Linked DNA regions of Homo sapiens. Each later gene encodes a partner of the first gene's protein in a complex. Each region holds a gene or a part of one and is shown in the gene's direction. Other genes may lie near its edges.

Region 1 (6,286 bases):
AATCTTCTTGGGACCTATAGAGGGAATAGACTAATATGGGAAAAGAACTAGTCAAACATGATTAATGCAAACTTAGAAGAGTTTCTCAAAAGCCAAATGAGTAATGTTCATCTTCAAATGTTTAAAAAATTGATCAGAGGATAGGTGGGTGGTTCAGTTCTATGTTCTGGATACTGTCACCAAGACCAGGACTGGGTTAAAAATCCTATCTATGTCACTATTTTAACTATCAGAACAATATCAATAAGGAATGTGTATTCTTGAGAAGGGGAAACTGTCTGGACTGTTAGATAGAGAGGCTCCCACTGCATGCAGAGAAGTTTGGGGAAACTCCAGAAATGGCAATTTCCTGTTCTGCCTTAGCAGTGATGGTTAAAGGAATAGGAATTCATTTACTCCCTGTAAATGAATGAATAACGGACCTTCTTTCTATAATGTAAACTGTAAAAATTAGATTTGATATATATCTTATTAGGCATTGTTATTGAAATTTATCCTGAATTCCTTATTTATAATTTGTCAGCAGAGACAGTCATTTCTCCATAGGAGCAAAGTACCAAGGCATTACCTTGACTATCCTAGATGACAAGTCTCTTAGACAATTCATCAGTGTGTGATTTTCAAATGATTTCTCCTTTTAGGTTACTGTTGATTGTGCTCCCTGTTGAATTTTGAAGTTTGTTTTACTAATTATTGGAATTTTGTGGATGTCTTCTCATTTCTTTAGGGAATATCCCTGCGCTCCAGACGCCAAAATAAGACTGAGGCAGAACAGCAAATAACTGAGGTCTTTGTATTAGCAGAAAGAATAGAAATAAACAGAAATGAAAAGAAGCCCATGAAGACCTCCCCAGAGATGGACATTCAGAATCCAGATGATGGAGCCCGGAAACCCATACCTAGAGACAAAGTCACTGAGAACAAAAGGTGCTTGAGGTCTGCTAGACAGAATGAGAGCTCCCAGCCTAAGGTGGCAGAGGAGAGCGGAGGGCAGAAGAGTGCGAAGGTTCTCATGCAGAATCAGAAAGGGAAAGGAGAAGCAGGAAATTCAGACTCCATGTGCCTGAGATCAAGAAAGACAAAAAGCCAGCCTGCAGCAAGCACTTTGGAGAGCAAATCTGTGCAGAGAGTAACGCGGAGTGTCAAGAGGTGTGCAGAAAATCCAAAGAAGGTAAGCCATTTACTGTTTCCCTGTTTTAAAAGACACAGAATGTTTTGATGTATTTTTTGCCCAAGGTTGCAAAGGCAAACAAAAAGCATTATCTTCAACAGCACTCTGCCAGCTCCCAGTTACATTAATGGAAGGAGCATTATGCTAAGACATAAATTTGGTCATTTTAGTTATATTTTGTTGTGTCTACTTTGGGAATTTCACTTCAAATAGCAAATTCACGTTATGAAGACTTTCTTCAGAAAGAAAAGGAATTTGTCTAGTGGCTAATTTCTGACTGCTTATGATGTACCTCATGATACAATTGTAGGTAGATGTCTTCAGCCTTTCTGTAGTTCAAAATCACCTCTTGAAACAGGAAAATTCTTTTTCCAAAAAAAACTATTGAAACAGAAAAATTTCCAAGGCATTCTTTGGAAAGGCAGAAGGAACAGAAGTTGGGATGTCCCTGAGACACATGCTCACTATGTGAGAGTTCCTGGTCAGTGGGGGATGCGTCTGCCCTCCAACCCTCCTCCAGCCAGAGACTATCTAAGCTAATGAACTTTAAGTGCTACTGAAATCACATCAAGTTGAGCCACTCATAATTACAAGCATGTGGACAAATCCATAAGAATGATTAGATTCCATTAGTGTTCTTCTGGGGAATACTTGGTTTAGCTAAAATAAAAATAGGTTGAATTGCTCCCTTTTTGTGAGCAATTCACAAAAATATAATATAAATTTAATTCTTAGCACACACAAAATTTGGACCTAAAACTACCATATTCTGAGTTCAGCAAACGAAACTCATGTAGCAATAACCTCTTCAGATACAGAATTCTGGCAAGTACAGCTGTCCAGACAGACCCTCTTCGGCACAAACTAGGAAGCTTCAACTGCCAAGAAAAGGAAAGATTCCCAGGTGTCCCCAGTACCTGCTGCATAGCCAGGCAGCCAGTGGAGGGGGAGGGCTTGTGTGTCTGGATGGTGGGCAGGAAGTCCTAGTGGGGAGATGCCCATAGACTGTTCCAGAGAGGGAAGAGGAGAGGCTCAAGAAGGGCACTGATGCCCACACAGGTGTCCTAAGTCAGAGACTGTACTTCTGGGGCAGGCTGGAAGCAGAAGACACCCGACAGTGCCAGACAAGGTCCTAGAAACCACAGGCACACCAGGGACGCAACAGCTGACGTGGGTCAGCACGTTCACCCGTCGAGTCTTACAATAAAACGCAGGCTCCAGGCGCTTACCGAATTCACAGTCTGGAAGGTGCTGCTTCCTCAGAATGAAACCAAAGAAGGGTGAAAGCGAATCTTTTAACTAGGATGATTCCTAAACACAGAGCAACCAGGCCCAAGGCTGAGCCAGGCCTGGTGTGTTCTGCCGGGGGCGTTCCAGCCTCTTCTCACACACAAGCACCCAGGAGACGCCCAACACACACATGCTCCTCTTTGCCGAGCTCTTCGGTGGGTGTCGGTAGTCCTAGAAAATGCATATATAAGATAGATTTTTTCCAGTAAGAAGCTTGTAGCCATGCTTTTCACCATGGTTCCTCTCCCTTAGCCAAGGGGTGAGAACTACTGCAAGAGTAAAGGCCAAGGCAGGTCTCCTGCATGCAAGTTGGGCATGCTTCTGTCTACAGGGGTTCCTTGGTTTAGGAGACCCAAAAGACTTAATCCTGGTTGGATTCACTTTTTCTGAGTGACATTTTTTAGTTTGTGAAAATGTGTGCATCGATGAAGAAATTTTATTATGAATTAGCTTAAAAATGCATTAGGAACTTCTGTATGAAAAGATCACATTATTTAAGTGTAAAAAAACTGCATAATAAAAGCAGTTCAAGTCAAGAAAAACAATGTTAATGGAATATATTTTAAAACTTATTTCCAACCTCAAAATTAATTTTCTGCAACTAAGGACCTGCATAATACCTAGTAAGCCTTTGGGGTTTTGCAGAGGAGGTCGATTCTAAAAATGGGTGTTTAAATTACTTAAGAGTTCTATTTTTTTTCTTCCCACACAGGCTGAGGACAATGTGTGTGTCAAGAAAATAAGAACCAGAAGTCATAGGGACAGTGAAGATATTTGACAGAAAAATCGAACTGGGAAAAATATAATAAAGTTAGTTTTGTGATAAGTTCTAGTGCAGTTTTTGTCATAAATTACAAGTGAATTCTGTAAGTAAGGCTGTCAGTCTGCTTAAGGGAAGAAAACTTTGGATTTGCTGGGTCTGAATCGGCTTCATAAACTCCACTGGGAGCACTGCTGGGCTCCTGGACTGAGAATAGTTGAACACCGGGGGCTTTGTGAAGGAGTCTGGGCCAAGGTTTGCCCTCAGCTTTGCAGAATGAAGCCTTGAGGTCTGTCACCACCCACAGCCACCCTACAGCAGCCTTAACTGTGACACTTGCCACACTGTGTCGTCGTTTGTTTGCCTATGTCCTCCAGGGCACGGTGGCAGGAACAACTATCCTCGTCTGTCCCAACACTGAGCAGGCACTCGGTAAACACGAATGAATGGATGAGCGCACGGATGAATGGAGCTTACAAGATCTGTCTTTCCAATGGCCGGGGGCATTTGGTCCCCAAATTAAGGCTATTGGACATCTGCACAGGACAGTCCTATTTTTGATGTCCTTTCCTTTCTGAAAATAAAGTTTTGTGCTTTGGAGAATGACTCGTGAGCACATCTTTAGGGACCAAGAGTGACTTTCTGTAAGGAGTGACTCGTGGCTTGCCTTGGTCTCTTGGGAATACTTTTCTAACTAGGGTTGCTCTCACCTGAGACATTCTCCACCCGCGGAATCTCAGGGTCCCAGGCTGTGGGCCATCACGACCTCAAACTGGCTCCTAATCTCCAGCTTTCCTGTCATTGAAAGCTTCGGAAGTTTACTGGCTCTGCTCCCGCCTGTTTTCTTTCTGACTCTATCTGGCAGCCCGATGCCACCCAGTACAGGAAGTGACACCAGTACTCTGTAAAGCATCATCATCCTTGGAGAGACTGAGCACTCAGCACCTTCAGCCACGATTTCAGGATCGCTTCCTTGTGAGCCGCTGCCTCCGAAATCTCCTTTGAAGCCCAGACATCTTTCTCCAGCTTCAGACTTGTAGATATAACTCGTTCATCTTCATTTACTTTCCACTTTGCCCCCTGTCCTCTCTGTGTTCCCCAAATCAGAGAATAGCCCGCCATCCCCCAGGTCACCTGTCTGGATTCCTCCCCATTCACCCACCTTGCCAGGTGCAGGTGAGGATGGTGCACCAGACAGGGTAGCTGTCCCCCAAAATGTGCCCTGTGCGGGCAGTGCCCTGTCTCCACGTTTGTTTCCCCAGTGTCTGGCGGGGAGCCAGGTGACATCATAAATACTTGCTGAATGAATGCAGAAATCAGCGGTACTGACTTGTACTATATTGGCTGCCATGATAGGGTTCTCACAGCGTCATCCATGATCGTAAGGGAGAATGACATTCTGCTTGAGGGAGGGAATAGAAAGGGGCAGGGAGGGGACATCTGAGGGCTTCACAGGGCTGCAAAGGGTACAGGGATTGCACCAGGGCAGAACAGGGGAGGGTGTTCAAGGAAGAGTGGCTCTTAGCAGAGGCACTTTGGAAGGTGTGAGGCATAAATGCTTCCTTCTACGTAGGCCAACCTCAAAACTTTCAGTAGGAATGTTGCTATGATCAAGTTGTTCTAACACTTTAGACTTAGTAGTAATTATGAACCTCACATAGAAAAATTTCATCCAGCCATATGCCTGTGGAGTGGAATATTCTGTTTAGTAGAAAAATCCTTTAGAGTTCAGCTCTAACCAGAAATCTTGCTGAAGTATGTCAGCACCTTTTCTCACCCTGGTAAGTACAGTATTTCAAGAGCACGCTAAGGGTGGTTTTCATTTTACAGGGCTGTTGATGATGGGTTAAAAATGTTCATTTAAGGGCTACCCCCGTGTTTAATAGATGAACACCACTTCTACACAACCCTCCTTGGTACTGGGGGAGGGAGAGATCTGACAAATACTGCCCATTCCCCTAGGCTGACTGGATTTGAGAACAAATACCCACCCATTTCCACCATGGTATGGTAACTTCTCTGAGCTTCAGTTTCCAAGTGAATTTCCATGTAATAGGACATTCCCATTAAATACAAGCTGTTTTTACTTTTTCGCCTCCCAGGGCCTGTGGGATCTGGTCCCCCAGCCTCTCTTGGGCTTTCTTACACTAACTCTGTACCTACCATCTCCTGCCTCCCTTAGGCAGGCACCTCCAACCACCACACACTCCCTGCTGTTTTCCCTGCCTGGAACTTTCCCTCCTGCCCCACCAAGATCATTTCATCCAGTCCTGAGCTCAGCTTAAGGGAGGCTTCTTGCCTGTGGGTTCCCTCACCCCCATGCCTGTCCTCCAGGCTGGGGCAGGTTCTTAGTTTGCCTGGAATTGTTCTGTACCTCTTTGTAGCACGTAGTGTTGTGGAAACTAAGCCACTAATTGAGTTTCTGGCTCCCCTCCTGGGGTTGTAAGTTTTGTTCATTCATGAGGGCCGACTGCATTTCCTGGTTACTCTATCCCAGTGACCAGCCACAGGAGATGTCCAATAAAGTATGTGATGAAATGGTCTTAAAACCCATGGTATTTTTATTATAGGGAGAGTGGGGAAAGAAACTAAGTGTGGGTGGGGCAGACAGGCCAGTGTAAGAGAGACTGGTTCATTACGTTCCATTTTCATTTCTACAAGGACTTGGCTGGATGGTCATTTTCTCTCTTGGCCAATAAGTCATCGCAGCTGCTTTTAGTCCTGCAGGAATGGCCTGCTGTATCTCGAGAACTACCTGCAACCGCAGCTGTGCCTGCTTTGTTGCAACAGAGGTGCTGAGTTGAGGGATGGGGATTTGACCCAGGGCTGCCCCAAGTCAGCAGATGAAAATACATGCCCTGACTTTCCTCTGGCAACCCTGATTTGACATGGATCCCGGGAGTGAATTTGCTGGCAAGTTCCAGGGGCAGTAGCCTGCGGTAGGTCAGTTAGTCCTGAAGAAGAGGCCTTTCTGTCGGAGAGAAAAGTTTGCAGGTGGGTGCATCTACCATCTTGAGAGGCTGAGGAGGGAGGGAGAGCCGTGCTCGGTGGTCAGTCTGGTGAAG
Region 2 (7,505 bases), on another chromosome or scaffold:
AGGCAACCCCACAGGGACCAGGCAGAGTGGTGGGGAGGGAGAGGAACACAGGAGGGGGAAGGGAGACAGGGCTGAGCAGTAGGGGGAACCTCAGCCCCACCCCAGAGAGCCCTCTCCCTCCTGGTCTCTCATGTGCCCTGCCTCACCCTGCTGCCTGCCCAGCCCTGCCACCGGCCCTCCTCAATTTCCGTGCTTGGCCCCCAATAGGTGCTCCAGGCCACAGGTGATAAGGGTGGGGTGGCATGGGGGGTGGAGGAGGCCTGGGTGATTCGTGCGGGAAGAGAAGCAGGTGACACACACTGAGGACTCAATAGTCTGCTCGGGGCTGTATGGAAATGCCCAGAGGCATCTTGATTGTTACAATGAGCAGGGGATGAGGGTACAAAAGTAGTGTGCACAGGACGGTCCAGCTCAGTGAAGAACTGTCCCACCCAAAGTGTCAGTAGCTCCCCATCTACATGCAAAATCAGAAGGAAGAATTAAAAACAAACAAACAAACAAAAACATCAAAAGGAAGAAAGGGAAGGAGGAAGGAAGGGAGAGAGGGAGGGAAGGAGGAGAGGGGGCCTGGCATCCATCTGTGAGCATCCCGGAGGTCCTCCAGGACCTGCCCTAACACGCAACGAGAACCCGACATACCAAGACAGGCCCAGGACCGGTGCTGTCCTCAGACCACGCAGCCTGTACAGCAACTGTGTTTTTCCCTGTGGCTGCCAGGATAACTTACCACAAACGGAAAGGCTTAAAACAACAGAAACATATTCTCTCACAATTGTGGATGCTGGTGGCAGCATCACTCCAACTTCTGCTTTGCCCATCACATGGCATTCTGCATATGTGCACGCCCAAAATGCTCTCTTCTCATAGGACACTAGTCACGGTTTACAGCTAACGCAAACCCAACAGGACCTCATCTTTGTTTTGTTTTGTTTTGAGACAGAATCTTGCTCTGTCGCCAGGCTGGAGTACAATGGCACAATCTCGGCTCACTGCAACCTCTGCCTCCCAGGTTCAAGCGGTTCTCCCACCGCAGCCTCCCGAGTAGCTGGGATTACAGGCACATGCCACCACGCTTGGCTAATTTTTGTATTTTTAGTAGAGACAGAGTTTCACCATGTTGGCCAGGCTAGTCTCGAACTCTTGACCTCAAGTGATCTGCCCGCCTCAGCCTCCAAAAGTGCTGGGATTACAGGCGTGAGCCACCGTGCCCGGTCATGACCTCATCTTAATGTGATTCCATCCTCAAAGACTCTCCAAGTACAGTCTCATTCACATGTACCCATGTACCAGCGATTAGGACTTGAACAAATCTTTTGAGGGTGACAGAATACATTCTGTCCCAGAATTCTGACCCAGTAATCAATGCCACAAATCTCTATTCCTGCTTCGGAGTGTGGTCTATGGAGTATCGGCCTCTTCTGGAAGCTTGTTAGGAACACAGAACCTGGGCCACCTCAGACCTACTGAATCAGCACCTGCCTGGTGCAGGCAATCCACATGCTCATTCAAGTTTGAGAAGCCTTGGATCACTACCCCCCTGGGGGGATGTAAGGCAAGACCAGGAACTCATAGAGGTGGAGGTGACTGGGAATACCTGAAAAAGGATTTCCATAGAGAAGTGCTTGCCGTCATTCCTTCCTGTATCCTCATCTCCCCTAAGTAGCTATGAGACATGTCAAGATTCCACCTTCAGGAAGGAGGGGAGTGTTCACACACACACACACACACACACACGCACACACACACGAGGACACGGATGGTACCTTCAGGGAACCAGTGAACTTATCTACATCCTCTGGAATTTGGGGGATACAGGGATTGTACCTGGTTTATACACCAACATCTGTGATGCCAGCCAGGAGGCCTGCCTGGCAGCAATCCCATGGCAGTGACAGACAAAACATGTGGCCCTTCTTAAAGGATCAGGATGATAAAGTCCACTTGGAAAGGCCCTTCCAGGAGGAGCCTCTGGGCACAGAGCTGACCTCGGCTGGCAGGCAGGTAGAGTCATGAGCAGCCAGGTGAGGGACACCTCAAAAGTGTGCTTGGAGACAAGGTGCCAGCAACCTGGCATTTGCAGCCTCTAAAACTCCCTGGCCACGTGGCACCTGCCAGCAAGGAGCCCCTTTCTGCTTTCTCCTCCCTCTCTTCCCTGTCCTAATCCTGGAAAGCCCAAAAACAGAAACTGGGGTGTACAGAGAAAGTGGAGCCAAGAATAAAGACGATGTGGACTGTGCTCCCCTTTGGGGATTTCTCTGCCAGAGACACTGAGCTGGGGAGAGGAGACATTTGATATTAGATTTTGAACGCGTGGAACATGCTTCTATTGACTGACATCTGAGGAGCAATCACAAGTGCGGAGCTCTCCCCAAGATTTCATCCTGGGGGGAGCAAGAACAAGCCCATGGAAAGGGGCAGCCCTGAAAAAGAATCAAATTGCTCTTGCTCGCTCACTCCCGAAAATCCAGCCTACCCATGAAAACACAATGGGAAGACAGCGCTTAACTGGAAGAACTGACTTTGCTACAGGGTCAGGGATGCCCCCTTGGGGGTGACGGTGGCGCTGAGCCGGAGGGTGCAGGGGTGAAGGAGGCGAAGACTGTGAGCGTGGGAGGCACGTCTGTCAGAGGAAGTGGGCTGGCCTCGCTTGGCACTCCCTCCCAGGGCCTCCACCTCAGGCCCACAGGCCACTCTTCGGGCACACACACCCTGGGCCGCCTTCACGGCTTCCAGAACACGGCCGCAGCTATCCCCTGACACCAGCTGTGCTTGATCTGTCGCTCTCGCCTCACCTCCCTGCTTCCTCGGCAATCCACTCCCCACCCTTCCTCTCCACTCAGTTACTCACTAGTATAATAGTATTTGAAAGGTACAAACAGGCCGGGTGCGGTGGCTCACGCCTGTAATCCCAGCACTTTGGGAGGCCGAGGCGGGTAGATCACTTAAGGTCAGGGGTTCTCGACCAGCCTGGCCAAAATGGCGAAACCTCGTTTCTACTAAAAATACAAAAATTAGCCGGGAGTAGTGGTGTGCACCTGTAGTCCCAGCTAGTCGGGAGGCTGAGGAAGGAGAATTGCTTGAACCCAGGAGGCGGAGGTTGCAGTGAGTGAGCCAAAATCGCGCCACTGCACTCCAGCCTGGACGACAGAACGAGACTCCGTCTCAAAAAAAAAAAAAGAAAAGAAAGATGCAAACAGCCACAGCCTCGCTTTAAACCCGCCCATCCCCTCGCATTTACAAAACCCCAGTTTCATACTTTGACACACAGTCATGGGGCTCCAGCCTGCCGCCTCGCAGCTCTTCCCTCCTGTGCTGGGCTCCAACCCCACTGCCGCGTCCTTCTTTCTAGACCTAGGAACACTGTGCAGGCCTGTCCGGTCCAGCGGACGGCAGGCGCTCGGTTCTCCACACCCCGCTCTTTAGCCTTCAGGCCTCGGTGCTAACGCCACCTCCTAAGGGGGACCCTCCGGCGCCACCCAGTGTGCCTCTCCCCCACAAGCCTCTTTGGTCTCTTAAAGCAGCCATGCTGCCCTCAGGCTGTAAGTTCTCCAAGGGCCGCGGACGGACGGGGCCACACAGGAGAGCTCACACACAAGTGAGTGAAAGAATAACCAAATTAGGGCCGGGCGCGGTGGCTCACGCCTGTTATCCCAGTACTTTGGGAGGCTGAGGCGGGTGGATCACCTGAGGTCAGGAGTTCGAGACCAGCCTGGCCAACATGGTGAAACCCCGTTTCTACTAAACATACAAATTAAGCTGGGAGTGGTAACGTACAAATTAAGCTGGGAGTGGTGGCGGGCGCCTGTAATCAGCTACTCGGAAGACTGAGGCAGGAGAATCGCTTGAACCCGGGAGGCGGAAGTTGGAAGTTGCAGTGAGCCGAGATTGCGCCATTGCACTCCAGCCTGGGCAACCAAAGCGAAACTCTGTCTCAAAAAAAAATAATAATAATAATAAGCAAATTGAGGAATGAGAGCAGCATCTCAAGGACACAGGTACTGTTTTGGAATTTATTTTAGACCTTTTTTGAAAGTAGGCGTGAACGTAATTGTTTCAGGCACTCTTAAGCGAAGCCAGCCGGCGCCCCGACAGCCGAGGGTGCGGGAGCTCCCCACGGCCCAGCCCCAGCCCCAGACCCCGCTGCCGCGCCTCGGCACGCCCCTGCGCCCCGCCTCCGCGCCTCGGCGCTACTCACGCCCCGCCCTCCGCTCCTCGTCACGCCCCATGTCGCGCCTCCGCGCGACTCACGCCTCTCCCAGTCTCTCGGCACGACCTCGTGCCCCGCCCTCGCCCCTGGCGCAATTTATGCCCCGCCCCGCGCCTCGCCACACCCCGTGCCCCGCCCCCGCTTCTCCGGGCAACTCCTGCTCCAACCCCGCGCCCGACTCATGGCCCTCCCCGCCCCTCGCCACGCCTCGCCTCGCCTTAGCGCTTCGCCCCGCCCCTGTCCTGCCTCTACTTCCGCCTCGGGGGAGCTGGGAGCCCGACGTTTCCGGGAGCGCCGCGTGGTTAGCGTCGGCGGCTTTTGGCATGGCGACTTTTTCTGGCCCGGCTGGGCCAATCCTGTCGCTTAATCCGCAGGAAGATGTCGAGTTTCAAAAGGAGGTGGCGCAGGTTCGCAAGCGCATAACCCAGGTGAGCAGGCACCCTGGCCCAGGCTGCGAGCGGGGGCGATGGACCGGGTCTAGAGGGTATCTGGGGTTGCACGGTTTCCGGCCCGGGCGCCCCTTGCCTTCGTGCTCGCCTTCATTACCTCCAGGGTCTCCCAAGTGGATTCGACCGAATCAGGGACCGACCTCTTAAGCTTGCAGGCCACGGTTTCCGAGACGAAAGGGTTTACGCTGTTCGGTAAATGATGGAGGGGTTTGGCCGCTGAGGCCCTGGAGCCTTCATGTGGAGGGTAACGGGGAAGTATTGGGGTGACAGAAGCAGTAGAAAGAACCAGCTGGAGGGAATAGGCTCCTATACCACAGGTTATCTCCGGGTTAGAGCTGTCACGCTTCCGCGTTTCCCCCAAAAATGGGAGCCCCAGACTTAACACATTCGGGAAGTTTGTATGCCGGGTTGGTGATCTGGGAGTTATTAAAATAGAGTATTTGCCAGGTTCCACTTGCTGACTAGGGCCCCTGACATCGCTTATACTTTCTGTGGTTTTTAGCATAAAATACACAGGAAAACTTAGAAGTTCCTGTTACAGAGGTAAGGCTATGATGACTGAGACGTTGAAAGGCTAATCTGTACCGTGAGAGTTAACAAGCGTATCGAAAATTTTTCGATGAAGTGCGAGTAAACAGTAATATGCATACCAAATTGAAGCCTACGTTTATGTAGAGTTCTCTGGGCAGAAGATCTAAAATGGCTTGTTCAAAGATGTCCTTGCTTATCCGTTGATTGACATAGTTATTGAGCTCTAATATTATACTGGGTGCTGGGATGCCAGGCTGGAAAGATAGTTGACTACTGCTTGACCATGGCCTTTGTGGGGAGAGAAACACTAAACAGCCAGTTCTTTAATTACTACTGTGGTAAGTGGAAATGCAGAATAGGTTCTTGGGCCGAGGGCTAGGGGTTTTGTTACAATGTGATTTTCTTATTTATATATTTAATTTACCTGGTCTTTACGTCTTTAGCGAAAAAAACAAGAACAACTTACTCCTGGAGTAGTCTATGTGCGCCACCTACCTAACCTACTTGACGAAACCCAGATCTTTTCATATTTCTCCCAGTTTGGCACTGTGACACGGTTCAGGCTGTCCAGAAGTAAAAGGGTAAGATTTTTGCAGTTGGATTTAATGTTTTGTTTTTCAAATGTGTATTATCCTTGACATTAAAGAGCACGTTCACGCATACATTATTGCTTATCAGATTTCATTCCAAAAAGGAGAGTGGAGGAGGTTTAGAATCTGAAACAGCTACAGGAGCAAAATCAGTATTATTGTAAAAGTTTGTTTTTTACATTTCTCCAAATCCTTACATTAAATTGACAGTCCTGGTAAATGAGCTTTAGTATGAGGCCCAGGTTTATACATTTTCTTGTGTTAGCCTTTGGTACAAGCATCCTTATAATAGCAAAGGTTTATATAGTGAATAGTTAAAGGTGAGGACTCTGGAGTTGGACTGCTGAGGTTTGGGGTCAGGCTCTACACCTTACTAGTTAGAGTGATATGACCTTACCATGTTTCAGTGTTGTGATCTGTTAAATATAAGTAAAACTTCCTGGGAGTATTTAGTCAAAGGTTAAATATAAAGTCTTTAGAGGATTGCTTGGTACACAATAAACACTATATAAGTATAATTACTATTTGTGTCATACCTGCCTTCTAATGAGAAAACGCTTTACATAGCTTGTTTCAATAGTGGAGGAGTGACCCACTTTCTTTTCTTTCCCCGCACATAAACTTTAATTGGTTGTAGCCATAGACACCTATTTGATTTAGCATGTGGGGGATAGGGTGCACATCCATCATCTGTTAGTTGTCGTAAAGATAGATTGTAGGTAGAATTGAGGTCCCTTTTGTACCCTTCCCAGTGCTCTTCAACTTCTTTAATTAGGGAATTAAATTCACAAATTCAGTTTTCTTTTTTTTGAGACTGAGGCTTGCACTGTCGCCCGGGCTGGAGTGCAGTGGTACAATCTCAGCTCACTGCAACCTCCGCTTCCCGGGTTCAAGCAATTCTCCTTGCGTCACCTTCCCAAGTAGCTGGGATTACAGGCGCCTGCCACCATGCCTGGCTAATTTTTTGTGTGTTTTACTAGAGACGGGGTTTCACTATGTTGGCCAGGCTGGTCTCGAACTCCTGACCTTGTGATCCTCCCGCCTCGGCCTCCCAAAGTGCTGAGATTACAGGCGTGAGCCAGTGCGCCCGGCCACAAATTCAGTTTTCATTGCTATATATAAGTTTTTACTATATATATATGTACTAGAATACATATGTGTACATATATAAATGTACATATGGTATTATTTTAAAATTATATTACTCTATCATTCTTCAGCTGAATTTTTGTATTCAATAATCTGAGCTTTATCCATGTAACTCTATTGCCTTTGTTATCATCATTGCTCATTACTTAGGTTACTAAAGTTTATCCACCCTCCTATTGAACATTAGGTTTTGTTTTGGGGGGCGATCTCGGCTCACTGCAACCTCTGCCTCCCAGATTCAAGTGATTCTCTTTCCTCACCCTCCTGAGTGGCTGGGATTACAGGTACCGGCCACTGCACCTGGCTAATTTTTGTATTTTTAGTAGAAACAGTGTTTCTACTAAACACTGTTTTGGCCAGGCTGGTCTCAAACTCCTGACCTCAGATGATCCGCCCACCTCGGCCTCCCAAGGTACTGGGATTACAAGCATGAGCGAGCCACTGTGCCCAGCCCGAACATTAGGTTTTTTAATATTTTTAACTCTTTAGATTAAGCTGCTAGGAACAATCTTTGTACAGGTATAGGCAGAATTTTCTAGAAGAGTATTTTGCAGACTTTGGCTCACAATAAGAGGTAAG

Evidence for each region. The genes of interacting proteins can lie anywhere in the genome.
Region 2: the proteins of MKI67 (region 1) and NIFK are in contact, whole or in part, in an NMR structure (PDB 2AFF), measured with the Homo sapiens proteins. Residues at the interface, in NP_002408.3 of Homo sapiens: Thr9, Ile10, Lys11, Arg12, Ser13, Pro18, His19, Phe20, Pro21, Ser23, Leu24, Arg31, Gly32, Ile33, Glu34, Cys35, Asp36, Ile37, Arg38, Ile39, Gln40, Leu41, Pro42, Val43, Val44, Ser45, Lys46, Thr66, Asn67, Ile91; in NP_115766.3 of Homo sapiens: Val228, Asp229, Ser230, Gln231, Gly232, Pro233, Thr234, Pro235, Val236, Cys237, Phe241, Leu242, Arg245, Gln248, Val249, Leu252, Asp256, Lys257, Asp259, Glu260, Ile261, Val262, Phe263, Lys264, Gln265, Pro266, Ile267.

What each region holds. Positions count from the first base shown.
Region 1 is NC_000010.11:128,096,143-128,102,428, reverse strand, and holds the end of MKI67 (proliferation marker protein Ki-67), read left to right. Parts: intron 1-727; coding exon 728-1,171; intron 1,172-3,173; coding exon 3,174-3,239; 3' UTR 3,240-5,770; downstream 5,771-6,286. UniProt on the Homo sapiens protein: Protein that associates with the surface of mitotic chromosomes and acts both as a chromosome repellent during early mitosis and chromosome attractant during late mitosis.
Region 2 is NC_000002.12:121,733,876-121,741,380, reverse strand, and holds the start of NIFK (MKI67 FHA domain-interacting nucleolar phosphoprotein), read left to right. Parts: upstream 1-4,505; 5' UTR 4,506-4,530; coding exon 4,531-4,635; intron 4,636-5,630; coding exon 5,631-5,768; intron 5,769-7,505.